4 separate regions of the Homo sapiens genome follow, and all the other regions are linked to region 1. Evidence: fine-mapped expression QTL. A gene starts in region 1. Each other region holds a variant in brackets. All regions are shown on one strand. Distances are between the middles of the regions.

What was found.
Region 2: its variant is fine-mapped to the expression of GMPR2 in whole blood (INTERVAL, PIP above 0.99).
Region 3: its variant is fine-mapped to the expression of GMPR2 in whole blood (INTERVAL, PIP above 0.99).
Region 4: its variant is fine-mapped to the expression of GMPR2 in whole blood (TOPMed, PIP 0.95).

What each region holds. Positions count from the first base shown.
Region 1 is chr14:24,228,430-24,236,529 of GRCh38, forward strand. It overlaps GMPR2 (guanosine monophosphate reductase 2), which reads left to right and starts at 4,500. Exons shown (of 10, transcript NM_001002002.3): 1 at 4,500-4,548; 2 at 4,790-4,911; 3 at 5,050-5,169; 4 at 7,308-7,391; 5 at 7,538-7,711. The coding sequence starts at 4,825. NEDD8-MDP1 (NEDD8-MDP1 readthrough) reads right to left here and starts at 3,938. Exons shown (of 7, transcript NM_001199823.3): 1 at 3,821-3,938. The coding sequence starts at 3,838. NEDD8 (NEDD8 ubiquitin like modifier) reads right to left here and starts at 3,938. Exons shown (of 4, transcript NM_006156.3): 1 at 3,821-3,938. The coding sequence starts at 3,838. RefSeq lists enhancers at 3,802-4,667, 3,834-4,128.
Region 2 is chr14:24,133,378-24,141,477 of GRCh38, forward strand. PSME1 (proteasome activator subunit 1) reads left to right here and starts at 2,817. Exons shown (of 11, transcript NM_006263.4): 1 at 2,817-2,924; 2 at 3,608-3,640; 3 at 3,766-3,828; 4 at 3,944-4,054; 5 at 4,143-4,188; 6 at 4,323-4,420; 7 at 4,672-4,740; 8 at 4,819-4,886; 9 at 4,968-5,022; 10 at 5,097-5,183; 11 at 5,359-5,585. The coding sequence starts at 2,886. The coding sequence ends at 5,439. It overlaps EMC9 (ER membrane protein complex subunit 9), which reads right to left. Exons shown (of 6, transcript NM_016049.4): 1 at 8,061-8,100; 2 at 7,730-7,939; 3 at 7,512-7,588; 4 at 6,168-6,237; 5 at 5,983-6,077; 6 at 5,588-5,819. The coding sequence starts at 7,927. The coding sequence ends at 5,633. RefSeq lists silencers at 2,391-2,810, 2,861-3,150, 8,048-8,100. The variant A/G (reference allele first, on the strand shown) is at 3,866.
Region 3 is chr14:24,365,154-24,373,253 of GRCh38, forward strand. It overlaps NFATC4 (nuclear factor of activated T cells 4), which reads left to right and starts at 3,031. Exons shown (of 10, transcript NM_004554.5): 1 at 3,031-3,287; 2 at 4,346-5,441; 3 at 7,288-7,450; 4 at 8,018-8,100. The coding sequence starts at 3,188. LOC124903291 (a long non-coding RNA gene) reads right to left here and starts at 4,232. Exons shown (of 2, transcript XR_007064085.1): 1 at 4,094-4,232; 2 at 363-1,374. RefSeq lists silencers at 1,462-1,771, 3,490-3,869 and an enhancer at 4,832-5,675. The variant G/A (reference allele first, on the strand shown) is at 4,137.
Region 4 is chr14:24,513,683-24,521,782 of GRCh38, forward strand. No RefSeq gene overlaps it. Among named protein-coding and RNA genes, the nearest start is that of CMA1, 9.5 kb to the left of the region's middle. The variant G/A (reference allele first, on the strand shown) is at 3,592.

The sequences.
Region 1 (8,100 bases):
AGGGGTCAGATATGGTAGCTCACGGCTGTAATCCCAGCACTTTAGGAAGATGAGGTGGGAAGATCACTTGACCCCAGAAGTTTTAGACTAGCGTGGGCAACACGATGAGACCGCATCTCTACAAAAAAATAAAACAATTGGCTGGGTATGGTGGTAGCACACGCCTGTAGTCCCAGCTACTCAGGAGGCTCAGATGGGAGAATTGCTTGGGCCTGAGAGGTCGAGGCTGCAGTAAGCTGTGATGGCACCACTGCACCCTAAGCCTGGGCGACAGAGTGAGAACCTGTCTCAAAAAAAAAAAAAAAAAAAAAAAGGAACTGTAATAAAAAATGTCACTTATATGGTAATTAACAGCTCTTTTTTTTCTTTTTTAAATTAATATTTTCTTCAGATCAGATTAACAGCTATCTCATGTGTAACTACTTTCCTATGTATTTAATTAAGAAATGCAACAAACAAGAGGGGATGGGGCGAGAGGGGGAGATAGAGAGAGATGGGGCACAGAGGCCTGTTTGAAGGCAGAAGGGTGTTGCAGGAAAGAAGACTGGCAATTTTAGAGAAGTACCACATAAATATGGATTCAAAGAAACAGAAAAAATCTAGAATCTTGCTATTCAAAGTGTAGCTCTCAGACATTCAATATCACCTGGGAGTTTGTGAGAAATGCAGAAACCTGTGCCCCACCTTAGACCCACAGAATCATAATCAGCATTTTAGCAAGACCACAGGTGATAGGACACTGTATTTTCAAGTTTCCACACACAGCATTGATTTTTTTGTTCAAACAGTTATTTTATTTATTTATTTTTTGAGACAGTCTCACTCTGTTGCCCAGGCTGGAGTGCAATGGCACGATCTTGGCTCACTGCAACCTCTGCCTCCCAGGTTCAAGCAATTCTCCTGCCTCACCCTGTCAAGTGGCTGGGACTACAGGTGTGTGCCACCACACTCGGCTAATTTTTGTATTTTTAGTAGAGACGGGGTTTCACCATGTTGGCCAGGCTGGTCTTGAACTCCTGACCTCGTGATCCGCCCGCCTTGGCCTCCCAAAGTGCTGGGATTACAGGCGTGAGCCACCACGCCTGGCCTTTCAAACAGTACTTTTTAAACTGCAGGTCTCAACCCATCAGTGGGCAGGTCTCAACCCATCAGTGGGTTATGAAATCAACTTAGAATTGAAAGTCTGAGAGCATATCACAAATAGCAAAGTTTTTGTGCCTTATGGGTTGTGACATAAAATTTCTTAATGTGGAGTGAAATTTTCAAAAAGTGTACAAAACACTTAGCATTAGTAACTTAACTTCTTTGGACCTAGTGGACATGAGAACCCATATGCATTGAAAAGCCAACAGAAGTATTCAACAGGCCGGGCGCGGTGGCTCATGACTGTAATCTCAACACTTTAGGCGGAGGTGAGCGGATCACTAGGTCAAGAGATCGATACCATCCTGGCCAACCTGGTGAAACCCCGTTTCTACTAAAAATACAAAAATTAGCTGGGCGTGGTGGCACACCCTGTAGTCCCAGCTAGTCAGGAAGCTGAGGCAGGAGAATCGCTTGAACCCGGGAGGCGGAGGTTGCAGTGAGCCGACATTGCGCCACTGCACTCCAGCCTGGTGACAGAGGGAGACTCCGTCTCAAATAAAAATATTCAACAGTTAGTGTTTCTCAAGATTTTGACAGTGATCCATTCTAAAAATTAGTATGAACTAGTAACACCCCCTGTGTAATATACATATAAAATAAAATAAAAAATTTCAGGCCTGGCAACAGAGTGAGACTCTGTCTCAAAAAAAAAAAAAAAAAAAAAAAAAAAGGCCAGGCACGGGGGAGGGTGGCTCACACCTGTAATCCCAGCACTTTGGGAGGCAGAGGCGGGCGGATCACGAGGTCAGGAGATCGAGACCATCCTGGCTAACATGGTGAAACCCTGTCTCTACTAAAAATACAAAAAAATTAGCTGGGCGTGGTGGCAGGCGCCTGTAGTCCCAGCTACTCGGGAGGCTGAGGCAGGAGAATGGCATGAACCCGGGAGGCGAAGCTTGCAGTGAGCCGAGATGGCGCCACTGCACTCCAGCCTGGGCGACAGAGCGAGACTCTGTCTCAAAAAAAAAAAAAAAAAAAATCATAAAACAATATCCTTACCTAGCACTATATTATTTCCTATTTTCTCCCCCTCTCTCTTTCTTTTTTTTTTTTGCAGGGGGAGATGGAGTTTCACTCTTGTCGCCCAGGCTGGAGTGCAATGGCGCCATCTCAGCTCACTGCAATCTCCGCCTCCCAGGTTCAAGGGATTCTCCTGCCTTAGCCTCCGAGTAGCTGGGATTATAGGCGCCCACCACCACGCCCGGCTAGTTTTTGTATTGTTAGTAGAGGCGGGGTTTCACCATGTTGGCCAGGCTGGTCTTGAACTCCTCACCTTAGGTGATCCACCCACCTCGGCCTCCCAAAGTGCTGGGATTACAGGCGTGAGCCACTGGGCCCGGCCTTTTTTTTCAGGCAGGGTCTGGAGTGCAGTGGTGCCATCACTGCTCACCGCGGCTTCGACATCCCAGGATCAATCAATCCTCCCATCTCGGCCTCCCGAATAGCTGGGCCTACAGGCATGCGCCCAGACCCTTGGCTAATTTTTTGAATTTATTGTACAGGCAGGGTTTCGCCATGTTGCCCAGGATGGTCTCCAACTCCTGGGCTCAAGCGATCGGCCTGCCTCGGCCTTCCAAAGTGCTGGGATTACAGGCGTGAGCCACCGCGCCCAGCCTATTTTCTCTTTTTAATGGCGCCAGTGACCCATTCACCTATTAAATTGATGTTACGACTCTTATATAGGCCGCTACTCAACGTTAAAAAAAATCATCTTTAACATACTATTTTAATACTAGACCTCAAATCTTAGCTAAGAAGTAGTTTGGAAGGACTGGGGAAGAGAAGGTTAAGAATGACTATTATGTACGGTAAATATGCTAAGAAGCTGATGAAATAACGATAGATTTACTTAGCTACAAAAAGGCCAAACTAGCATTAGACTTCACTTGTCAGCAGTTTTGTTTTTTTGAGGGGGGCGTGGGGGGGGGGGTCTCTGTCTGTCTGAAGGCACAAAAGAGGAAACAGCAGATAGGACTAACGAGGGCTGGAAATTGGTGAAGAACCACCACGGGAGTTGAGAGATGCAGATGAAGGAAACCATGGCTAGTAGCAAGAACTAGGGCAGCGGTAACTAACCTGCCTCAGCCAAGGAAGTGAGGCTGGTCCAGGATGCCAGGCTCAGAAAGGCAGGTACTGACTGAACACACTCCCCGCTTTGGTTCCTGTAGGACGGGTGAGATACCACACCTTGGCAACCACCAGTAAAGGCTCATAGTCTAGCCCTTGGGAGGCCCCGATTTTAGGGCTGTGCTCGGAGGCGACCTACGTTAGGGACTGGGAGAAGCAGGTACCCTGGGAATGAAGAATGGAGAGCAGCGCTTACTCCAAGAATCTGAGAGACGGGGGAGTCAAGCCGCTGCTAGGCCTTCTCTATGACTGCGGGGGTTCGAATACAGTGAGACCCGACAAAAGCGACCCCATTCTGGGTGATAGCACAGTCCTGGCAAAAAAGCAGGCATGGCAAAATACCCCAGGGTCGTCAGGTGGGACCTGGGCCCCGCTCTCAAAGCCCTTCTGGGTCCCCCTATTTCCCACCACCCCTCGCGCGGAGCCCTGAGGCAGTCAGCGTCCTCCAGGCTAGGGAAAGGCGTGGTTTTCCTTCCCCACGTCTCCCGTAAGGCACTGCTGCCAGCCCAGTACTACTGCGTCTTGGCAAGGCTGGAGGTGCTCCCACCTTCACTTTAATTAGCATCTTCTTTCCAGTTTGGGGCTGCACACGGATAAATTGCTGCTCCTACCGCTCCGGTCGCCGCTGCCGCCCTCCAGCACTCTTGCCTGCAAGGGCCACTTCTACTTCCGGGTCACTGTCTGGCTCCACCCCCCCCCCCCCCCCCACTGGGTTCCGGAAAGGCTCAGGGTTGCTCCCGCGTTTCGGTTCAGTGACGTCGTAAATTGGAATGAGGCATCCAGTTTAGCAACAGCAGAGATGACGACTCTGCGATTCTGAGAGTCCCTGGCGAGCCCGGGCTAGCGAAAAGTGGGGGCAGAACGAACTACATCTCCCATCGTGCCAGGAGGCGGTCCCGCCCGTTTCCCCCTGGGAGTTGTAGTCTAACCCCCTCGGATCCAACAGCAACCTCAGTGCGTGAACTCTGTTATCCAGAAGGCCTCGCCCTGCCGCCGCCGAAGCTGGAATTCGTCGGCTAGTAGTTCTCGCCGGCAACTAGAGGAACCTGTTGGCGTGGCCCAGAAGGCTTAGCGGGATTGCACGAGGTTAGTTGCTAAGCAAGGTGGTCTTTGGTCAACTGCCGCCTGGACCAAGGCAACAGGAAGTGAGTACCTCTATTCCGGAAACTAGTTATGAACCCTCCCCGCCCCCCGTCGCCAACATTCCTTCGTTCCCCTAAATCAGCCTCTTGCCCCATTGCTCTTTGCAGGGGTAGAAGAAGGAAGTGTAGCGGGGTAAGGAATGCACCGTCAGGGTCTCTCACAACCCTTTCCCAGCTCTCCTCCCCAACAAACAGTACCTGGGATGGAGCCCTAGGGTAATCGCAGCCACGGGATGGGTCGAGGTGACAGGCTTCAGGGACCACACTTCGGCCTTTGCCCGACCTTCCACAACTTAAGCGAAGAGAGGCCACCAGCCGTAACAGGGCGTTAAAGCCCAGGGGAAGATTGGTCCTTATGACTTCCTGCCTTCCAGCCCTCAGATTCATCGCTACCCCGAGGCTAAGCGCCATGCCTCATATTGACAACGATGTGAAACTGGACTTCAAGGATGTCCTTTTGAGGCCCAAACGCAGTACCCTTAAGTCTCGAAGTGAGGTGAGCAAGCTTCTCTACTTGCTGTTTCTTGACCCCACGCTCCCGGTGGGCCACAACCAAGAAAGATGCCTGTCCTTGTCCTAATATGGTACGTTTTTTGGATTAATGAAATGGTCAATTTCCTGTTCATATCTGCAGGTGGATCTCACAAGATCCTTTTCATTTCGGAACTCAAAGCAGACATACTCTGGGGTTCCCATCATTGCTGCCAATATGGATACTGTGGGCACCTTTGAGATGGCCAAGGTTCTCTGTAAGGTAGGGCTTTCCTCATGCCCCATCCCTATTGGTGTCCAGTTAGCCCAGCTGACTGCAGAGGTGTTTGCATCCCCACCCCCATGCCCAGTCAGTTCTCTGGCAGTTAGCAGTCAGGATGCTCTGATTTACGGTTTTTTCCACTACTGAAGCCCTTTATCTGATAAGTTCAAAAGGCCATCTGAATTAGTGAGATTCAAAGCTAAGTTCTGCTCCGATATTTCTGATATATGAACAGAATTTTCCCTTTTGTCCTGTTTAGCAGTTTGTACACCTTGCCAACTTTTCCCACCACCCAGGTCACCCCCTCACAGTCACATGCATCCCTTCAGTTATGCGATTGTCCACATTAAGCATTCACTGTTTTAGTCCAGAAACTACAGTTTAAGCATTCAAAAATCCTAACTAGAAGATCCTAGGAGAAGCAGCTTATTAATTTTCTTTAATAAGAACAATTCATTAATAAAAGAATACTTCTGCCATTCTTTTTTTAATCTTCCTCTTCTTTAAGTCCTAGGTTCCTGGGAGTTTCTGGGATGTGCCCCAAATGGGATGTGTTTTTCTTATATACAAGTTGTTCACTTTGAAATGGAAGATGCTGCTCCTGTCAGTACTATTACCTGCCTCTATACTTGTTGCTGAGAAGGTAGAGAGTTATCTGGGCACTTTGAGAACATATGCACTCTGCTGGTTGATCCATGTAGCCCTGGTTGATGAATTCTGCTATTGTTTGTGGCTCCATTAGTCTTAAGGACTTCATATCCTTTTTCTATTTTTGATTGCTGTGTCTTTGTGGAATGTCTTGTCATTTCTTTAAGGTTGATAGTTATGCAGTTTTATTTTTACTTTATTTTTATTGCCATTCAGTAACTGCTTAGGAATCTTTCTGTTGCCCACTGTCCATCTGCCCTGACCAGTAGAGTTCAGAATTGGTGACTCTGACTGCAGAGTTAACAGGCGTGCTGTAATACATGAACCTTTTTGGGGACTGTCTTGATGCTTTATGTGGAGCCTGGCTTTCAGTATTGCTGACGAGAGGTAAAGAAATCAGGTTTTAGAGATAAGAGCCAAGTCTTACTGTAATAAAAAGGTTGGATGCAAGCAAACATCTTTTTCTAAGTTTGGTATGTAATCTGATGTGCTCATCATGCCACACTCTGCCAGTATATCTCCAACATCTGCTGACTTCCTATCCTATGGTGACTTTTCTTTGCTTATCAGTATGTTGATGATAGAGTTGTTGAGAAAGCAGAATTCAATACCAGCTTTAGCTAGATATTGTTGATCTCTGAGTACGTATGTAGAGCACTTGTTGCTAGCTAATACATGACTTCCTTGGGTTTCTTGTTAGTTGCAAGATTTGTGCTGTTTCAGCCAACTGCTGTCTCTTGTCTGTTTGCATGTAGACATGTAAGGCACAAACACCAGCATACACAATGGCCTTTGAATGCCTTCCTCAAAGTATTGGGATATTGTTTGCAATCTGTTGAGCTAGAGAATATGAGTTTGATGAGTCATTATGTCCTTGAACTTTATTAAAATGGACTGAATGAAACAGATTTTTTAGCTTGATCCATGTCCCCAACTAGGAAATTTGTCCTTTTTTCCACTAGAGATGGAGACAGGGTAGGGTAGCCCCTTATCAGCTCTTATCAACCTTAAGGCATTACCTTTGGTGAGCATCCAGATCTACTGAATTACTGCTGGTAAATGAACGAGAACATAACCAAAAATAGTTTAGTACTAGGTTACCTTAGGAGGAGGGGCTGAGTCAGTGCAGAGAAACACAGGCTCCATCCAGCTTCTTCATGGTTCTTTCATGTCTGCTGCCTGTCCCACTGCACCAGCAGCTTGTCACCTTTTAAGTCAGAAGCAGTGAATGTGCTGGCAGATGAAATCCAACCCAGATCACTCAGTACTTTGGTGGGAAATCTGACAAGTACTAGCTTATGGTAAAAAGCCCTACTAGTATTTGTAGAGAGAAGAAAGGTTGAACTCAAATCCCAGCTCAACCTGAGTTCTTTGACTTGTTTCCTCCCCAACTTCAATCATGTCCTCCCTCAGATAGAATAGGTCTGTTTCTAGAAAAGAGACCTTAATAAAGTTTTCTCCCTTTTGATGCTTCTTTGTCTTCTCCCCAGTTCTCTCTCTTCACTGCTGTCCATAAGCACTATAGCCTCGTTCAGTGGCAAGAGTTTGCTGGCCAGAATCCTGACTGTCTTGAGGTAACACTGGGCATACCCTGCTCCCTTCCTTATCCCAGTTTTCCAGCAATTATATTTTGGCTTTCTGGGGACCAGCACTCACCAATGACCCACTGGCTGCCCACCAGATCATCTCTGATATGCCAATGACTCTGTTTCTCCCACAGCATCTGGCTGCCAGCTCAGGCACAGGCTCTTCTGACTTTGAGCAGCTGGAACAGATCCTGGAAGCTATTCCCCAGGTGAAGTATATATGCCTGGATGTGGCAAATGGCTACTCTGAACACTTTGTTGAATTTGTAAAAGATGTACGGAAGCGCTTCCCCCAGCACACCATCATGGTATGTTTCTATTACAGTCGGTACCTTTTTATCTTTCCACTTTCCTGCCACTCCGTTTTGCTACATCAGTCCATTTCTCCTCTGCTGCATTATGATATTCCTAGTTCATTTAATCATGATACTGGATGATTATCCATAGTTCTAAGCTGAAAATGTCTATTTGGTCAGTGTAGTATCTCTGACCCTTGGTTCATAGTCTTTGTAAATCTGATGTCCCTGATGTCACTCACCAAACCATGATGGAACATCTGTGCACTGTACATACCTGTGGTACATAGACATCTGCCCACTGAAATGGACACATACTAGTCACATAAAAAGGGGTCACATGAATAATGATTTATCTTTTTACAACCTTAGAAGAGTGGCCTTCATTTTCTTCGCAGCAT
Region 2 (8,100 bases), 95 kb before region 1:
CACTTGCACTGCGTTTACTCTGTGCCAGACACTGTTCTAAGTGTCTGTAAGTTCTTTATAAAAGTTAACGCATATGGCCGGGCGCGGTGGCTCACGCCTATAATCCTAGCACTTTGGGAGGCCGAGGTGGGCAGATCACTTGAGGTCAGGAGTTCAAAACCAGCCTGGCCAACATGGTGAAACTCCATCTCCACTAAAAATACAAAAAAAAAAAAAAAAAATTACTTGGGTGTGGTGGCGGGCGCCTGTAATCCCAGCTACTTGGGAGGCTGAGTCAGGAGAATCCCTTGAACCCGGGAGGCGGAGGTTGCAACGAGCTGAGGTTGCACCACTGCACTCCATCCTGGGCAACAAGAGTGAAATTCCATCTCAAAAAAAAAAAAGTTAACACATTTGGTCCTCACAACAATAAAAGTATGAGGTAGGTTGTACTGATCTTGATTGGCAAAAAAAAAAAAAAATTGAGATAGTAGTGTTCCCATTGTACAGTTGCAAACACTGAGACACAGAGGTTAAGTAACTTGTTCACAACTAATAAACAGAGGAGCCATGATTACAAAGCTAGATAATATGGGTATATCATCTATCCTCTAAACCAGGAATTAGCAAACTTTGGCCCTCCTGTGGCCAGTTTTGTATGACCTGCGAGCTAATAATTATATATGTATAATATATATATTTATATATTATATATATTATTATATATTTTATATATAATATTTGCATATATAATATATATATAATTTTTTTTTAAAGACAGAGACCTGGCAGTGATGGCAGTGTAATCCCAGCACTTTGGGAGGCTGAGGCAAGAGGATCACTTGAGCCCAGGAGTTTGAGACCAGCCTGGGCAAGATGGTGAGACCCTGTCTGTATAAAAATTTTTTTTAAAAGGTAAAACATTTTTTACATTTTTATTTTTATTTTATTTTTATTATTTTTTTGGAGACAGAGTCTCACTCTGTTGCCCAGGCTGGAGTGCAATTCTGGCTCACTGCAACCTCCACCTCTCAGGTTCAAGCGATCTCCTGTCTCAGCCTCCCGAGTAGCTGGGATTACAGGCCCCCACCACCACACCCGTCTAGTGTTTGTATTTTTAGTAGGCACAGGGTTTCACCATGTTGGCCAGGCTGGTCTCGAACTTCTGACCTCAAGTGATCTGCCTGCCTTGGCCTCCCAAAGTGCTGGGATTAGAGGCGTGAGTCACTGTGCCCGGCCATTTTTACATTTTTTAATGGTTGAAAAAGCAAAAGAATAAGAATATTTTATTACAGGAGAAAGTTACATGAAATTCAAATTCCAGTGTCTATAAAATGTTATCTCACCAAACTAATTCATTTACATATGGCAGCTTTCCTACTACAATGGCAGAGTTGAGTAGACAGACACTGTAAGGCCTATAAAGCCTAAAATATTTACTCTCTGGCCCTTTATAGAAAAAGTTGGCCAGACGCGGTGGCTCATGCCTGCAATCCCAGCACTTTGGGAGGCCGAGGCGGGCGGATCACGAGGTCAGGAGATCGAGTCCATCCTGGCTAACATGGTGAAACCCCGTCTCTACTAAAAATACAAAAAATTAGCCGGGCGTGGTGGGACGCGCCTGTAGTCCTAGCTACTCCGTAGGCTGAAGCAGGAGAATCGCTTGAACCCTGGAGGTGGAGGTTGCAGTGAGCCTAGATGGTGCCACTGCACTCCACCCTGGGCGACAGAGCGAGACTCCGTCCCCCAACACACACACACACACACACACACACACACACGTTTGCCAAAACCTGGTTTAAATCAGTAAATTATCCTGGAAAAAAAAAAAAAAACACCTGGCTAATATCAGAGAGATAAATGCTATGAATGTACTAAAACAGGATGATTTGTAATAGATTTGGAGGGAGGTTCCTTATAAAGGATGATGAAAATAGTTCTCTCTGAAGAGGTGACATCTAAACTGAGAACCGAATGACAACACCCAGGGTAAGGGTGTTTTAGGCAAAGGGATTATTAGCAAGGGCAAAGGCCCTGAGGCAGAAATGAACATGACACATCTGAGAAACAAATAGCCCAAATATTTGCAAGTGTAATGAATGAAGGGGCAAGCAGTAGAAAGTGGACTTAAAGGGGAGACAGGTGCGACAGCCTTTTGGATTTCATTCAAAGGTCAACAGGCAGCTGAGAAAGGGTTTTAAGCCAGAGAGAGGCATGAACCCGCTGCTCCGTGAGAGTGGGTTATAGAATGGCATCTGCAGCCGTGGTCCAGGAGAGAGTTGGTCCGGGCTTGGATAGGGATGCTGCCAGCTCTGGTGCCGGTGTTGCTACAGGTGCGCAGGATGTCGGCAGAGCCAGAGGCCCACGCTAGCAAGGCTAGGAAAGACAGGCCAGGTCTTATTCCATCTCTAGGGAAAGACGGAAGAGCCCTAAGTAAAGCTTATCTGTCCCAGGCGGAGCAGGGGAAGAAGAGAGCAGGTGGGGAGCCAGTTGGGAGGCGGGAGGTGGAGGTTGGGACGCGGAGAGACTGGCTTGGGCTTGGCGATGGGAGGACCCGGACCCGCCGTCCTCAGGCGGCGGGCGGCAGGTGGCGGGAGGCGGGAGGCGGGGACCGGGCCAGCGGAGGTGGGGAGCCTGGAAGCTGGCCCTCGCGAGGCGGCGCGGGGAGGGTGGGTGAAGAGCGCCTGTGCGCGCTAGGCGGAGCCTCACCCGCCGCCCTCCTCTGCGGCACCGCCCCTTCCATGGCAGGGCTGACCCCGCCTCCTCCATCCGACCCCGCCTCCTCCAGCCCTCCCCGCCCCACTACCCAGGAAGGCGGAGCTGGGTGCGAGCGCCCTACCGCTTTCGCTTTCCCTTCGCGGTGCCCACTCCACTCCTTGTGCGGCGCTAGGCCCCCCGTCCCGGTCATGGCCATGCTCAGGGTCCAGCCCGAGGCCCAAGCCAAGGTGAGCGCCGCGGGGTCTAGAAAGGGCCCACTGGGGAGGCGTGGCTGGAGCGGCCGGGGGCATCCCCGACCCGCCCCCCAGGCTCCCACGCGAGTCGGGGGCAGTCGGCCGAGCTGGCGCGCCCGGAGCACCTGCGCCCCGGGGAGGGCGGCGACTGCTGCCTGCGGGGAGAGGCGAGGCGGCCGTGGTTCTGCGGGGTGAGGTGAAGCGGAGAGCTGGCGTGGAGGGGAACTCCGCTGGCCTGGGGCCGGGGCCACACACAGACTGGGTGCGGGACTGCCCCAGCTACCTTCTGGCCTTTCCCTCAGGGAGGGTCCCGGGGCCCACCCCATCCCTGTCCTACTTGCAGAGGACTCTCAGCACCCCTCCTCACACCTGCCAGGCGACCCCAGAGATCTGTTCTCACGTGAACACTGGCCCTTCACCGCCAGGAATGTTCTCATCCCCCATATCCAGCCCCAGGGATACCCACTCCACTTTCCGTAGATCCAGGTCTGCAGAGATCCACCTTCTCCACCACCCCAACCCACCCTACAGGCATCCATCTCGCTTTCTTCAGGTCTGGCCTTAGAGGGATCCCCTCCACCCTTCCCCAGGTCAGGCCCTACATAACCCTAAGGGAACTGTCCTCAAATGAACTGGCCTTAAAGCCAAGTTTCTGAAGGGATGCGTGTGCCCCACAGGTGGATGTGTTTCGTGAAGACCTCTGTACCAAGGTAAGACATGCCCCATCAGCGTGGCCCCACCCCTGCCCAACTCCTACTGCTCAACCCTGCCTCACTACCTAGGACGGGCATTTGATGCTGACTCCCATCCTCCTCCACCCCCACCTCACACACAGACAGAGAACCTGCTCGGGAGCTATTTCCCCAAGAAGATTTCTGAGCTGGATGCATTTTTAAAGGTACCGCGGCTGGGCAGGGAGCTAGGGAGTAAAGGCC[A/G]AGAGAAGAGTCTGGAGGCTGTGAGAGTGAGGTGAGAGGAACTCCCTCACCTCCAGCCCTCCTCCCACCCTACACCAGGAGCCAGCTCTCAATGAAGCCAACTTGAGCAATCTGAAGGCCCCATTGGACATCCCAGTGCCTGATCCAGTCAAGGAGAAAGAGAAAGAGGAGCGGAAGAAACAGCAGGAGGCAAGCTGGGAAGACCTGGGAGAAGGGATCCAACTATGGGGGTAATCAACCTTAGTCCTGACTCTCATGAGCTCCTCTCTTTCTGCAGAAGGAAGACAAGGATGAAAAGAAGAAGGGGGAGGATGAAGACAAAGGTACTTGAAACCACAATGGTGGGAAGAGACTTGAGTCCCACTCACAGGAGCTCCTCCTAAGGATTTCTTTCCAGTCTCCCCTTCGCCCCTCACACAGGCTCAATCATGTGACTGACCCATTGCTCACTCTCTAGGTCCTCCCTGTGGCCCAGTGAACTGCAATGAAAAGATCGTGGTCCTTCTGCAGCGCTTGAAGCCTGAGATCAAGGATGTCATTGAGCAGCTCAACCTGGTAAGCCCTCCCCCTTAAACTCTCAGGCTTCAAGTCAAACCATTGTCCTCTTGGTCCCTGCCATTTAGGGCCTGGCACTTGCCAGGTTTTAGCAAGAGAGGGCACAGCAAGTGAAACCAGAAGTCCAGGCCCTGGGGCTCAGGATAGACCCGGCACGCCTCCACCCAGTGTGGGGAGGGAAGCAAGGGAGAATATGAAACTGGGAATTGGGTAGAGGGCTGATGTGGCATTATGCCATTCCCTCTTCCCAGGTCACCACCTGGTTGCAGCTGCAGATACCTCGGATTGAGGATGGTAACAATTTTGGAGTGGCTGTCCAGGTGAGAGCGCTGCCCCACTTCCCTGCTCTTTTCTAGTCCATGCTTCCTTCCACTTTCCCCCTTGCTTTTTTTCCCTAGGAGAAGGTGTTTGAGCTGATGACCAGCCTCCACACCAAGCTAGAAGGCTTCCACACTCAAATCTCTAAGTGAGTGACCACCCATGTGCACACTGTTTTTGTTTTGGGAGACCTCCTTCTTCTACTCCATACACACTTCTCCTTCCACAGGTATTTCTCTGAGCGTGGTGATGCAGTGACTAAAGCAGCCAAGCAGCCCCATGTGGTAGGTGAGGCCCAGGTCAGGGTGCATGGGGGAAGGACACATGTAAGGTCAGGCCTGACCCGAGCTTCCCACAGGGTGATTATCGGCAGCTGGTGCACGAGCTGGATGAGGCAGAGTACCGGGACATCCGGCTGATGGTCATGGAGATCCGCAATGCTTATGTGAGGAGGCAAGGGCAGGGCAGGGGTGGGCAGAGGCAGCTTTCCCAGGCCACCCACTCCCTGACCCTGCAGGCTAGGGGTTAAGGGTGACAAAGCTCAGCTTCTCCACAAGGCTAGAAATGGGGCACAGAGCCACTGGAGGCCTCTGACTGACCTCTACTCCCTGGCCCTGTAGGCTGTGTTATATGACATCATCCTGAAGAACTTCGAGAAGCTCAAGAAGCCCAGGGGAGAAACAAAGGGAATGATCTATTGAGAGCCCTCTCTCCCATTCTGTGATGAGTACAGCAGAGACCTTCCTGCTTTTTACTGGGGACTCCAGATTTTCCCCAAACTTGCTTCTGTTGAGATTTTTCCCTCACCTTGCCTCTCAGGCACAATAAATATAGTTATACCACTGCCCATCAGCCCAAGTCTCTTTATTGGAACCGGGCCCCGCTGGCCCTGGCTCAGGCATTTCCATTTCCATTAGTGGGACCAACCCACTGGGTGATTTGAGTGTTGAGCCGCTGGTTGGTCCAGTCCTGCCGGATGTCATCAAGGTGGCAGTCAAAGTCCACAAGGTGCTGGTGGGCCCGATCTTCCAGTAGAGCTCCCACCATCTGCCGTGACTCTTCCCAGTCCCTCCACATCACTCTGAAATAGTAACCCCCATGGAGGTCAAACAGCAAGTAGTGGGTCCAGACACAGACTTAACAGAGATTGGGTCTAGAGAAAGACCCTTGGGGCAGGGCCAAGGACAGAGGAGACCCAGGAGCCTTGGGCTTCTAAGAAGAGGTAGAGGGAGTGGGGTACTCACAAGTTCTTATCCTTAGGGACCCAGCGGAGACCTTGGTTCTCCAGGACGATGACCGGGGGCACACGAGGCTGAGGCACCAGTTTCTGATTATCCAACTGAGTGGACAAAGATGGGCAAGTGAGAGTTTCAAGGGTCCCCCCACCCTACTTGCTTTTCACCTCCCCACCCAGAAACCCAAGCCTCACCATAATAAGTACTGCATCAGGGAAGAATTCTGCAATTCGCCCAGCAATTTTCAAGGCCAGGGGCCCAGGGCTGTGTAGAGGGAAGATCAGAGGAGTGAGGAGCCAACTGTGGGCAAAACCCATCCATTTGAGCTGGGCCTCCCAGGTCTCATAGGTGTGGGCGCAGCTGTGGCCTTTCCCTGTAGGTGGCCTGCGGGGATCGGGCCTGCTGGATGCTTGATGCACGACTGCTTGATGCTTGAGTGCTGTGGGAGACAGGTGCTCAGATATTGCTGGTGAGAGTGGAAACCAAAGGTGGTCTTTTTGGAAGGTAATTTGGCATAACCATCCAAATTGAAACTGTATACATACTATACATATGCTGACCCAGAAATTCTACTTATAAAGAATTTATGGTAATCATAGGACAGTGTCTGTAATAAAACACTGGAAACAACCTCAATGTTTAAAGTATTAAATAAATTAGAGTACATTCATATTCAGACTATATAGCTGTTACGGTAGATCTTGGTGTGGAAATGGGATGATGTCAAGTATTTATTAAGTGAGGGAGAAACGCAAATTACAAAACAGTACCTCTAATTGCTCCATGTATATGATTAATATATATATATATATATATATGTCTTTTCCTATATGTATATATATAAGGAAACTGCCTTATTTTTGAAGTTGCTGGTTGGGATTTCTCTGTTCTTTCAGCCCCTGGGGGACACCTCAGTTAAAGCAAGATCAGTCTGTTGGCCGAGAGTGGTGGCTCACGCCTGTAATCCCAGCACTTTGGGAGTCCGAGGCGCGTGGATCACCTGAGGTCAAGTTCTAGACCAGCCTGGCCAACATGGCGAAACCCCATCTCTACTAAAAATAAAAAATAATAATAAATTAAAAAAATAAAAAAAATTAGCCGGGCATGGTGGCGCTCATCTGTGATCCCAGCTACTCGGGAGGCTGAGGCAGGAGAATCGCTTGAATCTAGGAGGTGGAAGTTCCAGTGAGCCGAGATTGCGCCACTGCACTCCAGCCTGGGAGACAGAGGGAGACTCCGTCTCAAAAAAAAAAAAAAAATCAGTCTGTTGATACACAGTTGTCCTCCCCGCCCCAACGGCACTCCAGGGCAGGGCTCTGTCCTATTCATCTTTATATTCCCTCACTCCAGTACCCAGCATAGTGCCTGGTGTAAAGCCCCTGCTCCTAAGCGTTTGATGAAGGAAAGATAAAAGGAACGACCTTGGTTCATCTTGTGCGCCCCCGCCCCGCCCACCGCCCCACGCATCCTCGCCCTCTATTCCTCCAATCCCCAACCCGCCATAATCCTTTCCTTCTTCCTCTGGCTACGCCACTCACCTCTGATCGTTCACAGCTGCATTGGCATGGTAGTAACCAGCCACCACCAGACCGGCCTGTGCTCCCCACACATCCACCTGTCGTAGGAAAGGGGCCATCAGTAATTAAATTGTGCCGCTGGCTTTGTGGATGCGCACTGCTGCCAAGGGACCGGGGATGAACTTGGGCTGGGGTGTTGGGTGGGTTCGCGGTGGGGGATGGGCATCCAACGGAGGCACCTGGTTGAGGGCGACCTCCAACATGACGGACAGGGCCAGGTGGCTGTGGAAGAGGGGCACACAGTCGGTGAGGCACAGGCATTCTCCAGACCGCGGCGCTGGCGCCAAAAACAGCCCGTTGACTGCGGCGTGTGGGTACCGGGCAGCATGCAGGCACATCTTCACGTAGGCCAGGGCCGAGATCTCCACCTCCCCCATGGCGAGCGAGGCCTGGACGGGAAGCAGCAAGCCGGATTAGTACCGGATTAGGCGAGCCGGTGCCTAGCTCGCGTCCGTGAAGCTCCCTCCAGCGCTTCGGCACGCTCTTTGACCCTTCCCCGTGCCCTCTCACTTCGGTTCGGCGACAACGCTAACTCGACTCGCAGGTAGCC
Region 3 (8,100 bases), 140 kb after region 1:
TGTTCCTTCTGATTGCTTTTCACTATAAACTACCTACATCCTGTTCTTGTCTCAGGCTCTACTTACTGGAGGAGCCAAGCCTGGGACAGATTCCTGTGTAAAATGTGATGGAATGAATTAGCAAACTTGACAAGGACCCAGGAGGCCTGGGTTCCAGATCAACTCTATTGCTAACCTGATTTGTAAAAGTCACTTTATCTACTGAAAAGGTGGGCATTTTCATCATCATTTTCAGATGGTACTATGGGAGAAGATCTTCCAACCATTTGTTAAGTGAGGAAAAAAAAAAGCAAGAAAAATGCTTGTCACGCGCATAAAAAGAGCATGTGTGTGTGCGTACATGTTAATAAAGGCATACAAAATGGTGGACCATCAAGGTTTACTACATATTTTTGTATAGCTTGAATTGTTTACAAGAAGAATGCATATTAATTAGCTTTATTTAGACCTCTGGGGAAAAGAGAAGACTGCATCTTGTGTAATTAAAAAAAGAAATAAATAACATCCACCTCCAAGGAAGTTGAATGATGCTTGTTAAAGTGCAGAGCAGAAGCCACCAACCAAGGTAAGAAAGCCGGGTTGTGCTCCGGTATGTGCGCTAGGAGGCAGCGGAGCTGAGACCGAGGCCAGGCGGCTAGAGAAACCGCGAACCAAGGACGGGGGGGCTGGGTCTTTCTGGTCGCCAGGGGGCAGAAGTGTAGGGCAACTTAAATCCGCAACTACCCGCTGTTGCCCAGGCTCCAACGCCAGGCCGAGCATTTCAGAAGTCATAAGTTCCATCTCTCTGCCGCAGCCGAGACAGATTGGAGGGTTTTCAGAGTCAAGGGGATGCCCCCCCGCCCCCCGCCTCAGAGAAGCTTGGCACTCTGAACAATCTCAACCACTCTCCCCTCTGCTCCTCCCTTCCCTACCCCCCAACACCCATGAAGGGGAAATTGAGTCATGGGAGGAGAGGCCAGAGTCATCAGGGGAATGAGGGCCGACGCCAGCCCTCAGGGCCTTCCAGATGCTAGGAGGAGGAGGGTTCTCCAGGAAAACAAACAGGGGTGAGAGGGGAAGGCGGTTGGCTGGGCAGGAGCTGAGCCAGACACATGGAGAAACGCTGCCCAGGATCAAAGGAAATATGACATTTGAAAAGAATGTGTGCGTCTGCATGTGCTGTGCCTGCGGGGAGTGGGGCCGGGGAGGGGCAGAGTCTGGGGGAACAGGGGCTGGGCCTCGGGGTCTCTATCCCTGCTTTTCTCGCCTCCGCTTCCCACCTCCCTTGCCCTCTTAGGTACAGGCTGGTTGATGGGTCGAGGTGTTCCTCGTCCTCCCTCCCCGTGGGTTTCTCCTTCCTTTATTTCCGAGATGAAGCTGGAAGGGAAATGTAACCTGAGGAGACCAACCAAAGGAAAAAAAAGAAAAAAAAAAGAAAAAAAAAAAAAAGAAAGAAGAAAATCAAACCAGGCCGCTTCCCCGCTCGGCCTCGGAACATTCTTCTCTCCCCGCCGGCCTGGGCTCTTCTCCCCGCCCCTCCTGTGTTGCGGCCCTGGGCTCGGAGCCGGGGCAGCTCCGCACGTCACTGGGGTCCCCGGGGACTGGGGGGGTGGTCCCCTGGGCGGGCCCGAGGGAGGACCGAGGGGAGGGAGGGAAGCCGCCTCGGCCGCTGCGGAGCTCCGGCCCGTCGGGCCAGCCCTCCCTTCTTTCCCCAGTCCCGTAGAGCCTGTTTCTCATTAGAGTAACGGGCGCGGTCCCCGCCCGGCTTCTGAGTGTTTGTAAACGTCTGACCTGGGGCCGTCGCTTAACCGTTTAGTTGCTGGGATGGGGCGGCGTTGGGGGTGCGGCCCTGAACCGGAGGGATTTAGAGACTGGAGACGCGGCCTCTAAGAGAGGTTGAAACTGTGTGTGTGTGGGAGAAAATGATAACCACCCTCCCATCTCTCCTACCCGCCAGCCTCGCCAGTATCTCCCACCGAGTCACGAATCTCCCATCTAACTCCCTCTCACACAACCCAGGCCTCTCCAAGCCTGACTTTCCCGGAAACTCCAGTCCAGGTCTTCCTTCCTCCTCCAGCCCAGGTGACAGGTGTCCAGCCTGTTGGGGGCGGGGGGGCCAAGGAGGGGGAAGAGGAGGGGAACCCACAGGGTCCGGAGGTTTCAGGCCCCTAGTAAACCTGGCAAGGATTTTTAGAAGAGCCGGAGTGGGATGCTATCGGGTCAGAGATTCATTCCAGACTACAGTTCTAGGGAGGAGGCTGCCAACTTCCCGTGGAGGCTAATTCACGGCCCCTCTGGGTGGCTGGGACAAGGGCAGCGGCAAAGCCTGGCCTGGATCTACGCCCATCAAGGGCTGTGGGCCTAGGGACAGTTCTCAAAGCCTCTTTGGCTCGGACTGCTCCCAGAGGCATCCAGGCTGGCTAAGCGTTCTTCATCTTTGGGGGTCCTGGAGGAATGGCTGATGGAGGCGCTGATTCGGCAGCGCAAAGACTTCCAGAAGGCCCGGGCAGAGTAGCCCCAGGCAAGGGAGGCGGAAGAATAGCCTTTTCCTCTTCCGAGCAACTCGGTGCCACTCTGCCCCCAGGACCCTCCTGGCCTCAGGCTTGGAGGGAAAGGGGAGGAGAAGTGGTTCTGCCTTGCTAGGTGCTATCTACACAGTCTTCAGAATTTAAAAAAGGGTCTTCCGTGGGCTCTCTACCCTGGGGGCCCAGGATGTGGCCCCTTTAAGGCTCTCGGACCCAGAACCTTGAACTGAGACTAGGGGAGGTGGGGGCTGGGCTCTCTGCGGGAAATGATTGTCACAACGGCGGACCAATAGGCAACATTAGTATCACTCTTGAAGGACCGTTTTCCAATTCAGTTTTTTTTTTTTTGAGGGGGAGGGACTGAAGAGAGGACAGAGGGAGGGAGGGTGGGGGAGGACGAGGGGCGCGTGGTTTTCCCATCTCATCCCTGGAGGAGGGGCTGGAGCATCCCCGGCAGCCAATCAGGGACAGGCTGGGGGGGGGACCGCTTTGAAGAAGTTTGGGGGAAAAAAGTTTGGAAAAGTTTCTATAATAACGAGGGGGCTTCTGGAGGGAGGCGGCAGCGACGGAGGAGGGGGCTTCTCAGAGAAAGGGAGGGAGGGAGCCACCCGGGTGAAGATACAGCAGCCTCCTGAACTCCCCCCTCCCACCCAGGCCGGGACCTGGGGGCTCCTGCCGGATCCATGGGGGCGGCCAGCTGCGAGGATGAGGAGCTGGAATTTAAGCTGGTGTTCGGGGAGGAAAAGGAGGCCCCCCCGCTGGGCGCGGGGGGATTGGGGGAAGGTTAGTGCTGGGCTGGGAAGGGGTCTTGGGGTCAGTGAGAGGAGGGCCGGGGATCCTGAGTCTGGGGAATTTAAGGCAGCGAGCCTAGGGTGGGGGGTGAGGGAGTCAGAGGTCGAAGGGAGTCGGGGGGACTCGTTGGCCTGCGGAAGTGAGGCTGGGGGCCCGGGCACCACTTTCTCCTTTTTAGGTCGTGACTGGGGTGGGGGTGGGGGTGCTGTTGGCTGTGCGCCGCCTCCCGGCTGGGCCGCCTGTCACTGAACTGGGGGGCGGGCGGGAACTACGGCCCCAACAGCACCAGGCGCCGCCAGGGGAAGGGGAGGTTTGGCGCTGGAGCTGGCCCCTGGCGGACCGAGCTCTGGCCCGGCCGACTGGACGCCCGGGGCTGGGGGCGCTGTCAGGCCTCGCTGGGGCGCCCCTCCCCCTCCCCCGTCTGGCCGCAATGAGAGGCAGATGGCGGGGACCGAGCCGGGGGCGGCGGCCGCCGCTCGCACGAATCCGCGCTGCCCGCTGCCCCCCTTCCCCCGGCTGGGCCCAGCACGCATCACCCCCTCGGCTGCACCTCCGCCCCTAGATGGCGAGGAGAGAGGGAGGAGCCACCTCCCCTCGTCACCACAGCCCTGACGCCCCCCTCCCCTCTGGCCACGGTTGCGATGGCAACTGGGGCTCCTGCCAGCGCCGTTTGGGGGTTTGGGAACCGCTGCTAATTGGGTTCATGTGTGAGTCGCCCCCAGTCCAGCCCAGTGCCTCAAGAAACACGCCTCCAGGCCCAGCCCCAGCTCCAGCCCCTCTGGACCCACCTCTCTCACCTTAAGACCCACTGGATCGGGTACCCTCGGTCCTAGGATCCAG[G/A]GGCCAGTGGGCAAAGGCCTGGCATGCCTGCTTCAATCTCCTCCATCTTCCCAGGTCCAACTCTGCTTTTGTCTTGTGGCTCAGAAGGTCTCTTTGCTGAGGGGCAGGGAGCATAGAAGGACTTGCGGCCTGGCCACTCAAGGAACATAGCCATCTCACCTGCTTCTCTCTTTCCCCCTCTCCCTCTGCTCCTCTTCCCATTTTGACAGAACTGGACTCAGAGGATGCCCCGCCATGCTGCCGTCTGGCCTTGGGAGAGCCCCCTCCCTATGGCGCTGCACCTATCGGTATTCCCCGACCTCCACCCCCTCGGCCTGGCATGCATTCGCCACCGCCGCGACCAGCCCCCTCACCTGGCACCTGGGAGAGCCAGCCCGCCAGGTCGGTGAGGCTGGGAGGACCAGGAGGGGGTGCTGGGGGTGCTGGGGGTGGCCGTGTTCTCGAGTGTCCCAGCATCCGCATCACCTCCATCTCTCCCACGCCGGAGCCGCCAGCAGCGCTGGAGGACAACCCTGATGCCTGGGGGGACGGCTCTCCTAGAGATTACCCCCCACCAGAAGGCTTTGGGGGCTACAGAGAAGCAGGGGGCCAGGGTGGGGGGGCCTTCTTCAGCCCAAGCCCTGGCAGCAGCAGCCTGTCCTCGTGGAGCTTCTTCTCCGATGCCTCTGACGAGGCAGCCCTGTATGCAGCCTGCGACGAGGTGGAGTCTGAGCTAAATGAGGCGGCCTCCCGCTTTGGCCTGGGCTCCCCGCTGCCCTCGCCCCGGGCCTCCCCTCGGCCATGGACCCCCGAAGATCCCTGGAGCCTGTATGGTCCAAGCCCCGGAGGCCGAGGGCCAGAGGATAGCTGGCTACTCCTCAGTGCTCCTGGGCCCACCCCAGCCTCCCCGCGGCCTGCCTCTCCATGTGGCAAGCGGCGCTATTCCAGCTCGGGAACCCCATCTTCAGCCTCCCCAGCTCTGTCCCGCCGTGGCAGCCTGGGGGAAGAGGGGTCTGAGCCACCTCCACCACCCCCATTGCCTCTGGCCCGGGACCCGGGCTCCCCTGGTCCCTTTGACTATGTGGGGGCCCCACCAGCTGAGAGCATCCCTCAGAAGACACGGCGGACTTCCAGCGAGCAGGCAGTGGCTCTGCCTCGGTCTGAGGAGCCTGCCTCATGCAATGGGAAGCTGCCCTTGGGAGCAGAGGAGTCTGTGGCTCCTCCAGGAGGTTCCCGGAAGGAGGTGGCTGGCATGGACTACCTGGCAGTGCCCTCCCCACTCGCTTGGTCCAAGGCCCGGATTGGGGGACACAGCCCTATCTTCAGGTGAGGGTTGCGCCTGGCACTACCGCTCTCTCTAGCCATTCCAGTAGGGGAGCAGGAGGGTCAAGGGATGGATTTGAAGACACTAGTTTCATGCCCTCTGAATTTCAAAAGAGTATCTGCAACCAGCTCAGCAGCTGCCAACTACCTGGTTTTAAAGAGAACTAGAAAAAAAAGTGCACCTCTGGATGATTTACAAGAGGGCAACAGTTCCCTGTGGGACAATTAGAAAAAGCCCCTCCACCCTCCCACCCCTAGCTATTGTAGGAGGATCAACTAGGTTAAGGAGGTGTTCCTGTAGCCTATAGAGTGCTCCCAAGCCCCCGCTCTGCACTGGCATGTGGCTGAGTGTGGAACTTGGGCTGGATTTCAGCCTTCCACTCTGGCCCTTTCAATAGGTGCCAGACCTAAGCAGATTTCCACTCTGTTGCAGGAAATTCCCCTTCTGCATTCCTTAATTTCTAGAGCCTGACCTACTAGCTTAAAAGTATAGCTGCTAACTTGAATAAAATAGCATATATTTGCAAGTCAAATAATTCATATTAAAACTTGCAGTTCTATTCCTTCCACCCTCAGAGAATCTTGCCCATTTCAATAATCTTAAATCTTGAGATGTTAGACTGAGCTGGCTCTGTCCAGAAAAGTTTCTAGGGGAAAGAAACGTTAACACTGGTACCCCTGGGTTTCCCATAGGGCAAAGTTTCTCAACCTCAGCACTGTTAATTCAGCACTACTATTTTGAGCAGGATAATTCTTTGTTATGTGGGGGTGTACTGGACATTGTAGGATGGTTTAGCAGCTTCCCTGGCCTCTACCCGTTAGATGCTAGTAGCACCCACTCCCCTAGTTGGGAAAACCAAAAATGTCTTCAGACATTGCCAAATATCTGGGCAATTACTTGGGGGGCAATTACCAGTTGAGATCCACTGTCCTAGGGTATCAGGGAGCACAATACAGGATAAGTTGTCCCATCTGAAACCCTTAGCTCCCTGGAACTCCACCTATCAAGCCCCAACTAGTGGAAAGGGAGCTGGCTTGAGAGCAGAATGTGCTCAGTCCTAGGTCTGTCAGTAGCTGCTGGCTTCAGTTTCTTTCTCTCTCTCTCTTTTTTTTTTCTTTGAGACAGTGTCTTGCTCTGTCACCAAGACTGGAGTGCAGTGGTGTGATCTCACTCAGCCTCAACCTCCTGGGCTCAAGCAATCCTCCTGCCTCAGCAGGAGTAGCTGGGACTACAGGAGCACCAACTCGCCCAGCTGCTTTTTGTATTTTTTGTAGAGACGGGGTTTCACCATGTTGCCCAGGCTGGTCTCAAACTCCTGGGCTCAAGCCATCCTCACACCATCCCCTACCCCTGCCTTGGCCTCCCAAAGTGCTGGGATTATAGGTGTGAGCCAACGCACCTCAATTTTTTAATTTGTAAAACAAAGGGTTCATATCTGAGGCCTTTTCTGGTCTGAAGCGGCACTTCTTTTTTCTTTCCATCCAGGTCTAGGGATTGAGATGGGCTTGAGAATCCTCTGTATCCAAGTGAAGCCTTTCCACCCCAACCCCTGCGCTCAGAGCTGGGAAGAAGGGAGTTTTAGGCTTGTTGTCATCTTTCACACCTCAAGGGGCTCTGTCCCCTACTTCCCCTTGCTTCTGGACTTTTGGATTTCTTCATTTCTTTGTCCTTTTTTTAGTTTAAAAAAAATTCTTTTTTCCCTTCTTTTCACAAGTGTTAATGTACTTCTTTATTTCTTCTGTGCTTTCCTTTCTCTCAGACCCATACCCCCTCCTCCCTCACAGATCCAGTACGGGCCTGACTGGGGTCTGAGGCTGCACATGATCAATGCTCTTCTCTCCCACCCAGGACCTCTGCCCTACCCCCACTGGACTGGCCTCTGCCCAGCCAATATGAGCAGCTGGAGCTGAGGATCGAGGTACAGCCTAGAGCCCACCACCGGGCCCACTATGAGACAGAAGGCAGCCGTGGAGCTGTCAAAGCTGCCCCTGGCGGTCACCCCGTAGTCAAGGTAAAGGACAGACAGCAGGCCTGATATCCTCTCTCCTCTCCCAGATAGGTTCCAGCTATGCAGACACATGGCACTGCCCTTTCCCACACTCCCTCTCAGCTCTGACCCTGCAGGCAGCCTGGGGGAGGGGCTGGAGTTGGGGGAGGAGGGGTGCAAGGACCCGGATATACTTTCTACTCCTGTCCTTCCACCCCCACTCAGCTCATCCCATGGGACACCAGCCTCATGTCTACTCTGGAAAATGGTGGCCCGCCAGATATGGGGGAGGGTTTAGGCTGAGGACAAAAGTCACTGGGAGTTAAGTTTTCTCTGTATTGAGTTGGGCCAGTCTCTTTGGAGGCTCTTCTGCCTTTGCCCAGCCCACTTTGGGCTTTATTCCAAGAAAAACACTGTGAACTCCAGGCCATGTTTTCTCCACAACGGGTGCCCAGTTCCCCAAGGGATTCCCTTGCAGGATATCCTTTATCTTTCACCATTCCCATCCCATGGTAGACTGAAAATCTAGGGATGAATAAAGGATGAGACGGTGGGGATTTCAATGAGGTGGCCGCTCTCTCCCTCTGCCAGCTCCTAGGCTACAGTGAGAAGCCACTGACCCTACAGATGTTCATCGGCACTGCAGATGAAAGGAACCTGCGGCCTCATGCCTT
Region 4 (8,100 bases), 290 kb after region 1:
CTGTATGACCTGGCTACAGAAAAAAATGGCTTCTCTCTGGTTATGGTCCATGTTAATTTTTTTAAAATTGAGAATCATAACATACATACATAAGAGTGAAAAAAATTTTTTCTAACCAGCTTGATTTGTCATTTCCTTTAGACATTTCATCATGTCCTTATCCTGCCCTCTTCAATATGAGAGAAGGGCCATGGATAAGAATTGGGGGCATTTTGAGCAAAGCAGGTTAAGGGAAACTTCCAAAGCCAGTTTCTGATTCTTTCTCCACCCTACTCTTCTTGTCCCTGGGACACTGTCATCAACTGTGGAAAGTATATGACTCTTCTAGGTATAGCTCTCCCTTTGGAACATATGCAAAGATATCCTGCAGCATTATTTTAGGCTCTTCTCTGACCCAGGTTAATGATTTTGGAATAGGGGCTGAGGACTTACAGGACAGGAAGTTACACCCTAGACTCACCAGATGTGGCTTCAGGAGGCAAGAGGAAGACCAGCAAAATGATCAGGGCCTGCATTTTCCCTGCGACATTGCCCATACTGACCATGGCTAGTTCTGTCACCCCTTCACTGGGCCCCGCTTTTATAGCCCTAGAAGTAGAAGAAAGGGGATGGCTTGAAGCCACAGAAACCACCTGATCTCATTTCTGTCTTTCATGCTGGCATGGTTATCTTCCTCATCAGAAATTCTCATGACTCTACTCTCTGCTCTGGGAGTGTAGAAGTTGTGGTGAGTTCTCAAGAGTCCTAGGAAGAGGGATGCACACTTGTCACTCAGAAAAGCTCTCTAGAAGTAGGTAGTAGCATGCATGGAGGGGGGAGTTTTAGGTGCTGTAGCACCCATTCTAAGCAGGGATTAGGGAACTTTTCTGTCAATCACCAGGTAGGAAGTACTTTCAACTTTGAGAGCCAAATGGTCTCTGTGGCAACTATTCAACTCTGCTGTGTAACACAAAAGCAACCATAGACAATTTGTAAACCCTGGATGTGAACATGTTGCAGTAAAACTTCATTTACAAAGGGAAGTGGGAGGCTGATTTGGCCTGCAGACCATAGTTTGCCAGACCCTGATCTAGGTATCAGCCCTTCTTTCAATTCTAATAATCAGAAGAAAGGAATGTGGTGGTGAGAGGAGGAAGGAAAAAGGGAGAATTTATTTTTTCAAAATTTTTCTTTCTTTCTATATTTTTATTGAAACATAATTCACATACCATAAAATTACCCTTTGAAAATATACAATTCAGTGCCTTTAGCAAACTTACAAGGTTGTGCAACCATCAACACTATTTAATCTAGGACATTTTCATCACCCCATAAAGAAACCTGTATTCATGAGTAGTCACTTCCATTGTCCACCTCCCCACAACCCCTGGCAACAAATAATCTACTTTGTCTCTATGTATTTTGCCTATTCTGGACATAAATGGAATTATATAATATTTGGCTTATTATGTCTGGATTCTTTCACCAAAAATAAAGGGTGAATTTACAATGTGTTTGGCACTGCTAGGACTTTACATGTATCTTCTCATTTAATCTTTATTAACAGTCTTTTGGGGTTAGTATTATTATACACAATTATGAAGCACTCAGTGGAAGTTCAGAATGTCACATAGCAGCACAGCCAAAATTTAATTTGTCTGGTTCTGAAACTCATACTTTTTCTATTCCACTAATTTGAGTAATAAGGGTTGTGGGAGGAAGAGTTAGTCCAATGAATGGAGAAAAAAATGGAATGTATAAAGGAGAATATTTGTGTTCTCTGGAGGGGTTGGGGTAACCCACTTGTGCATTGAGAGTCACACCTGGCTTGAGAATAAATTGATACCTGCAGCTGTCATTATTTGAAATTATCCTGGACTCTCATTACTTTATGTGCCACTGAGGAAGAATAAAATTGTTCTAAATTAAACAATAATGTGTCATTAATTATCAGGTTCATTTCTGTTGTGAAGAGGTTAAAATGAGAAATATTGTGCATCTTTTAACCTATGACACATGGTAGAGTTCAGGTGTGTGCTTTATCTCATTCACCCTCAAATCAACCCTGAGAAATATTATTGTGTTTATTTTACAGATGAAGAAACTGAGTCTCAGATAATTTGAATCACTCGAAAAAACTTTGTAAGCTATAAACATAACTAGGTATCGAACTTATATCCAATTGCATGATCTTTCCTTACATCATCCTGCTGTCCTGGACTGTAGAAGCAGAGCAAAACCAACAACAAACCATTTCCCTCAATTTTATAAGGCACAATCCATATTATTATGATTTTCAACATTATTTTTATTTCATTTTAGATTCAGTGGGTACATGTGCAGGTTTGTTACATGGATATATTGTGTAATGGTGAGATTTGGGCTTCTAGTGAAATATTGTACTCAATACGTAATTTTTCAATCCCTCTGCTTTGGAGTTCCTGGTATCTATTATTTTCATCTCCATGTCCATGTGTACCCATTGTTTAGCTCCCACTTATAAAAGAGAACATGCAGAATTTGATTTTCTGTTTCTGAGTTACTTCACTCAGGATAATGGCTTCCAGGCCCATCCATGTTGCTGCAATGGACATGATTTCATTCTTTTTTTATGGCTGCATAGTATTCCATGGTGTGTATATGTGTGTGTGTGTGTGTGTGTGTGTGTGTGTGTGTGTGTGTGTGATTAGATATTTTCTTTATCCAGTCCTCCATTGATGGACACTTAGGTTGATTCTATGACTTTGCTATTGGGAATAGTGTTATGATAACCATACAAGTGCAGGAATCTTTGAGATATAACGATATGTTTTCCTTTGGGTAGATACCTAGTAGTGAGATTGCTGGGTTGAATGCTAGTTCTATTTTTTGTTCTTTCAGAATCTCCATACTGTTTTTCATAAGAAATTTACACTCCCACCAACAGTGAATAAGCATTCCCTTTTCTCTGCATCCTTGCCATTATTTGTTATTTATTTTTTGACTTTTTATTAATAGCCTTTCTGACTAGTGTGAGATGGTGACTCATTTTGGTTTGATTTGCATTTCTTTCATGATTAGTAATGAGCATTTTTTCATATGCTTGTTGGCTGTTTGTCTTCTTTTCAGAAATGTCCGTGAATGTCCTTCGCTCTTTTTTTTTTTTTTTGAGGCAAGTCTCACTCTTTCGCCCAGGCTGGAGTGCAGTGGCGCTATCTTGGCTCACTGCAGCCTCTGCCTCCCAGGTTCAAGCGATTCTCCTGCCTCGGCCTCCCAAGTGGCTGGGATTACAGGCACCCACCATCACTCCCAGCTATTTTTTGTATTTTTTGTAGAAACAGGGTTTCACCATGTTGACCAGGCTGTCTCAAACTCCTGACCTCAAGTGATCCATCCACCTCAGCCTCCTAAAGTACTGGGATTACAGGCGTGAGCCACCATGCATGGTTTTTGCCCACTTTTTAAATGAGGTTATTTGTTTTTCTTTCTTGTTGATTTGTTTGGGTTTCTTATATATTAGTCCTTTATTGAATGCATAGTTTGCAAGTATTTTCTCTCATTCTATATGTTGTCTGTACTGTAGGTCTGTCTCATTCTGTAGGTTCTCTCATTCTGTAGGTTGATTGTTTTGTT[G/A]TGCTGAAGCTCTTTAGTTTAATTAAGTCCCATTTTTCTAATTTTGTTTTTGTTGCATTTGCTTTTGCGGTCTTATTCATAAATTCTTCATCTAGGCCAATGTCCAAAAGAGTTTTTTCTAGATTTTCTTCTAGGATTTTTATAGTCTCAGGCCTCACAGGTGAGGCCTCAAGTAGCTGGGACTATAGGTGCGCACCACCACGCCTGGCTAATTTTTTGAACTTTTAGTAGAGACTGGGATTTGCCATGTTGGTCAGGCTGGTCTTGAACTCCTGACCTCAAGTGATCTGCCCACCTCGGCTTCCCAAAGTGGTGGGATTACAGGAGTGAGCCACTGCACCCGGCCCTTATTTTGCTTTTTTGCTTCCATTGCAGATTCATTGCAGATCCGAGCACAGTTGGGTTTATGTTGTTTCCTGCTCTGTCTTACCTCCTTTCACCAGTCTCCCCGTTTATTCAGTGTTCATTCTAAGCAGTCCTTAAATCATCCCTTTCCCATGGGTTTGGGTAGAGACCCTTAAATCTGGGATAGTTCTTTCGTTAAACCTTGTGATGCTGCCTGTCCCTCTATCAGCTCTCAGCATTGGCAAGGCCAGCAATGGAAAGTTCCCTGCATCTTAGAATCAAATCTATCAACGGTGATCTCATATCTGGTGGGATTTAGAAGAAGTCTGTTATGTCACAAACTGTCCTTTTCACATGCTTACACGAAGCTCATTCGATTTGTGGTTGTTGCCAGGAATGGAGGCAGCCAACTCCTGAGGCAGTGTGGCAGGAGTCAGAGGGCCAAGCCTCAAAGATTCTTTTATGCGCCCCCCCTTATGTGTTTTCAGTTAGAGTGAGTACTCCCTTAATTGAGGGACTACTCAGGACTTCTGAGTAGTCCTGGATTTAGCCCTCCAGGATCTGAAATCAATGTTGTCCCAGATAATGATTCTGCCTTTCATTTGCTCTTTTTTCCTGTATTTCCTTATCTCTTAACACATACATCCAGGAAAAACTTTCTCCTTCCCCTAGAAGTTATGCACAACTGACACAGTTTTGAACATTTGGCTAGTTTATTGATGCTGCCATAGGGAAGTGCTCTAAGTATCAAGATCTCTTGTGAAAGACTGATTTTTCAGTCCCTGTAAGGGGAATGTCGTAAAGAGAAAGGAGCGGTGAATTTCTCAGGACAAATGTCCCTGATTAACAGCAAAGATTACATTGTTGAGACTTAGGAAAGGGTACATCTTTTTCCTACAAAAGCCTTATTCACACCATGCATTTGGGAACGAGGTGAAGTAAGTATTAAATACGTAGTTAAGAGCTCTGGAATCAGACTGCATTGGAATCCTGGTAGCACCCTTTATCAGCTTTGTGACTTTGGGTGCATTTCTTTATCTCTCTTAGCTCCCCACTTCCACATCTGTAAAATGGGCTTAATGATAGTGAGGATTAGATATTTTTTGGGGAAAGCATCAGGCATAGTAAGTACTCAAAGTTAGTTATTAATATTGACATTATTAGCCCCCAAGATCACTAACCTCTTCCAAGAGTTTGTGAACCAGAATTGTCTTCTTTTAAGTTATTCCAGGACTCTAAAAGGCCAAATAAATAAAAAGAGGACCTCTCAGCACTTGGAACAGTCTTCCACCTGCCTCAATCCTTATCAGAGGGATTCTGGGAGGCACCACTCTGTTCCCAGCCCCTACTGTGAGAAGCAGTGGTTCTGTGCCCTGGGGTTTCCCAGCCTTGTGAAAATGATAACATCCTTTTTGTGTTACGCTGGGGCAGTTAGTTGCATCCTCATTTTGTGCTGTGGGACCTCACGTGCCACTATTTCTGTGTATTCTTGCAGTTGCTCAGCTTCCCCTAATTTTTATAACCTTTTCTGTATGGCCTGGGTTCCTTGAGAACCACCTGATAGATGACTGGCACTATCTCACCCAGCCTCAACCTTCTATTCTTTTTCTCCTGCTGTCTTATGAGTTCTTTCAATGACAATATTTGTGTCAGCCTGGCTATCAAAATTCTCTATTCCTTCCAAGTTCTGGGTTTCTAATAAAATACCACTCACATTGATTTTGTATCCTGAGACTGCTGAAGTTGCTTACCAGCTTAAGGAGATTTTGGGCTGAGACAATGGGGTTTTCTGGATATATAATCATGTCATCTGCAAACAGGGACAATTTGACTTCCTCTTTTCCTAATTGAATACCCTTTATTTCCTTCTCCTGCCTAATTGCCCTGGCCAGAACTTCCAACACTATGTTGAATAGGAATGGTGAGAGAGGGCATCCCTGTCTTGTGCCAGTTTTCAAAGGGAATGCTTCCAGTTTTTGCCCATTCAGTATGATGTTGGCTGTGGGTTTGTCATAGATAGCTCTTATTATTTTGAGATACATCTCATCAATACCTAATTTATTGAGAGTTTTTAGCATGAAGCGTTGTTGAATTTTTTCAAAGGCCTTTTCTGCATCTATTGAGATAATCATGTGGTTTTTGTCTTTGGTTCTGTTTATATGCTGGATTACATTTATTGATTTGCGTATATTGAACCAGCCTTGCATCCCAGGGATGAAGCCCACTTGATCATGGTGGATGAGCTTTTTGATGTGCTGCTGGATTCGGTTTGCCAGTATTTTATTGAGGATTTTTGCATCAATGTTCATCAAGGATATTGATCTAAAATTCTCTTTTTTGGTTGTGTCTCTGCCTGGCTTTGGTATCAGGATGATGCTGGCCTCATAAAATGAATTAGGGAGGATTCCCTCTTTTTCTATTGATTGGAATGGTTTCAGAAGGAATGGTACCAGCTTCTCCTTGTACCTCTGGTAGAATTTGGCTGTGAATCCATCTGGTCCTAGACTCTTTTTGGTTTGTAAGCTATTGATTATTGCCACAATTTCAGAGCCTGTTATTGATCTATTCAGAGATTCAACTTCTTCCTGGTTTAGTCTTGGGAGGGTGTATGAGTCCAGGAATTTATCCGTTTCTTCTAGATTTTCTAGTTTATTTGCGTAGAGGTGTTTGTAGTATTCTCTGATGGTAGTTTGTATTTCTGTGGGATCAGTGGTGATATCCCCTTTATCATTTTTTATTGCATCTATTTGATTCTTCTCTCTTTTCTTCTTTATTAGTCTTGCTAGCAGTCTATCAATTTTGTTGATCCTTTCAAAAAACCAGCTCCTGGATTCATTAATTTTTTGAAGGGTTTTTTGTGTCTCTATTTCCTTCAGTTCTGCTCTGATCTTAGTTATTTCTTGCCTTCTGCTAGCTTTTGAATGTGTTTGCTCTTGCTTTTCTAGTTCTTTTAATTGTGATGTTAGGGTGTCAATTTTGGATCTTTCCTGCTTTCTCTTGTGGGCTTTTAGTGCTATAAATTTCCCTCTACACACTGCTTTGAATGTGTCCCAGAGATTCTGGTATGTTGTGTCTTTGTTCTCGTTGGTTTCAAAGAACATCTTTATTTCTGCCTGCATTGCGTTATGTACCCAGTAGTCATTCAGGAGCAGGTTGTTCAGTTTCCATGTAGTTGAGCGGTTTTGAGTGAGTTTCTTAATCCTGAGTTCTAGTTTGATTGCACTGTGGTCTGAGAGACAGTTTGTTATAATTTCTGTTCTTTTACATTTGCTGAGGAGAGCTTTACTTCCAACTATGTGGTCAATTTTGGAATAGGTGTGGTGTGGTGCTGAGAAAATGTATATTCTGTTGATTTGGGGTGGAGAGTTCTGTAGATGTCTATTAGGTCCGCTTGGTGCAGAGCTGAGTTCAATTCCTGGATATCCTTGTTAACTTTCTGTCTCGTTGATCTGTCTAATGTTGACAGTGGGGTGTTAAAGTTTCCCTTATTATTGTGTGGGAGTCTTAGTCTCTTTGTAGGTCACTCAGGACTTGCTTTATGAATCTGGGTGCTCCTGTATTGGGTCCATATATATTTAGGATAGTTAACTCTTCTTGTTGAATTGATCCCTTTACCATTATGTAATAAAAAAAAATACCACTCACTCACTCACTCACTTTATCAGTGAGAAAGTAGATGGATGAGCACTTCCTAGATACCAGACCCTGGTGAGACAAAGGAGATCACAGTCTGCAAGCTCATAACTACAGCACGAATAGCCACGTGCTTCAGTGGGAGGTGTATAATGTGCTGTGTGGTGGTAAGAGAAGCTCTCGTCTGTCCTGGAAAGGCAGTGACAGCTTCATTTGAGGTGAGATCTCAAGGATAGGTTAGATTTTATCATTGGACAAATTGAGACAGGGCTTTCTGTGCAGAAGTAGTGACCTATGCAAAGAGGGCAAGAGAAGGGATGGGTGTTTGCGGAACTACATAAAGTATCTAGCATAAAGTTGAGTGAAAGAGGGCAGGAATGGTGGAAGATGAGGCTGGAGAAGAGCTGGGTCAGGAAGGGCTTATGTGCCATGAAAGTGTAGAGTTTGTCCTATAGGTCAGTTTTTAAAAATTGTGGTTAAAAAAACACAAAATAATGGTAAAAAAACCCATAAAATTTACAATCTTGACAG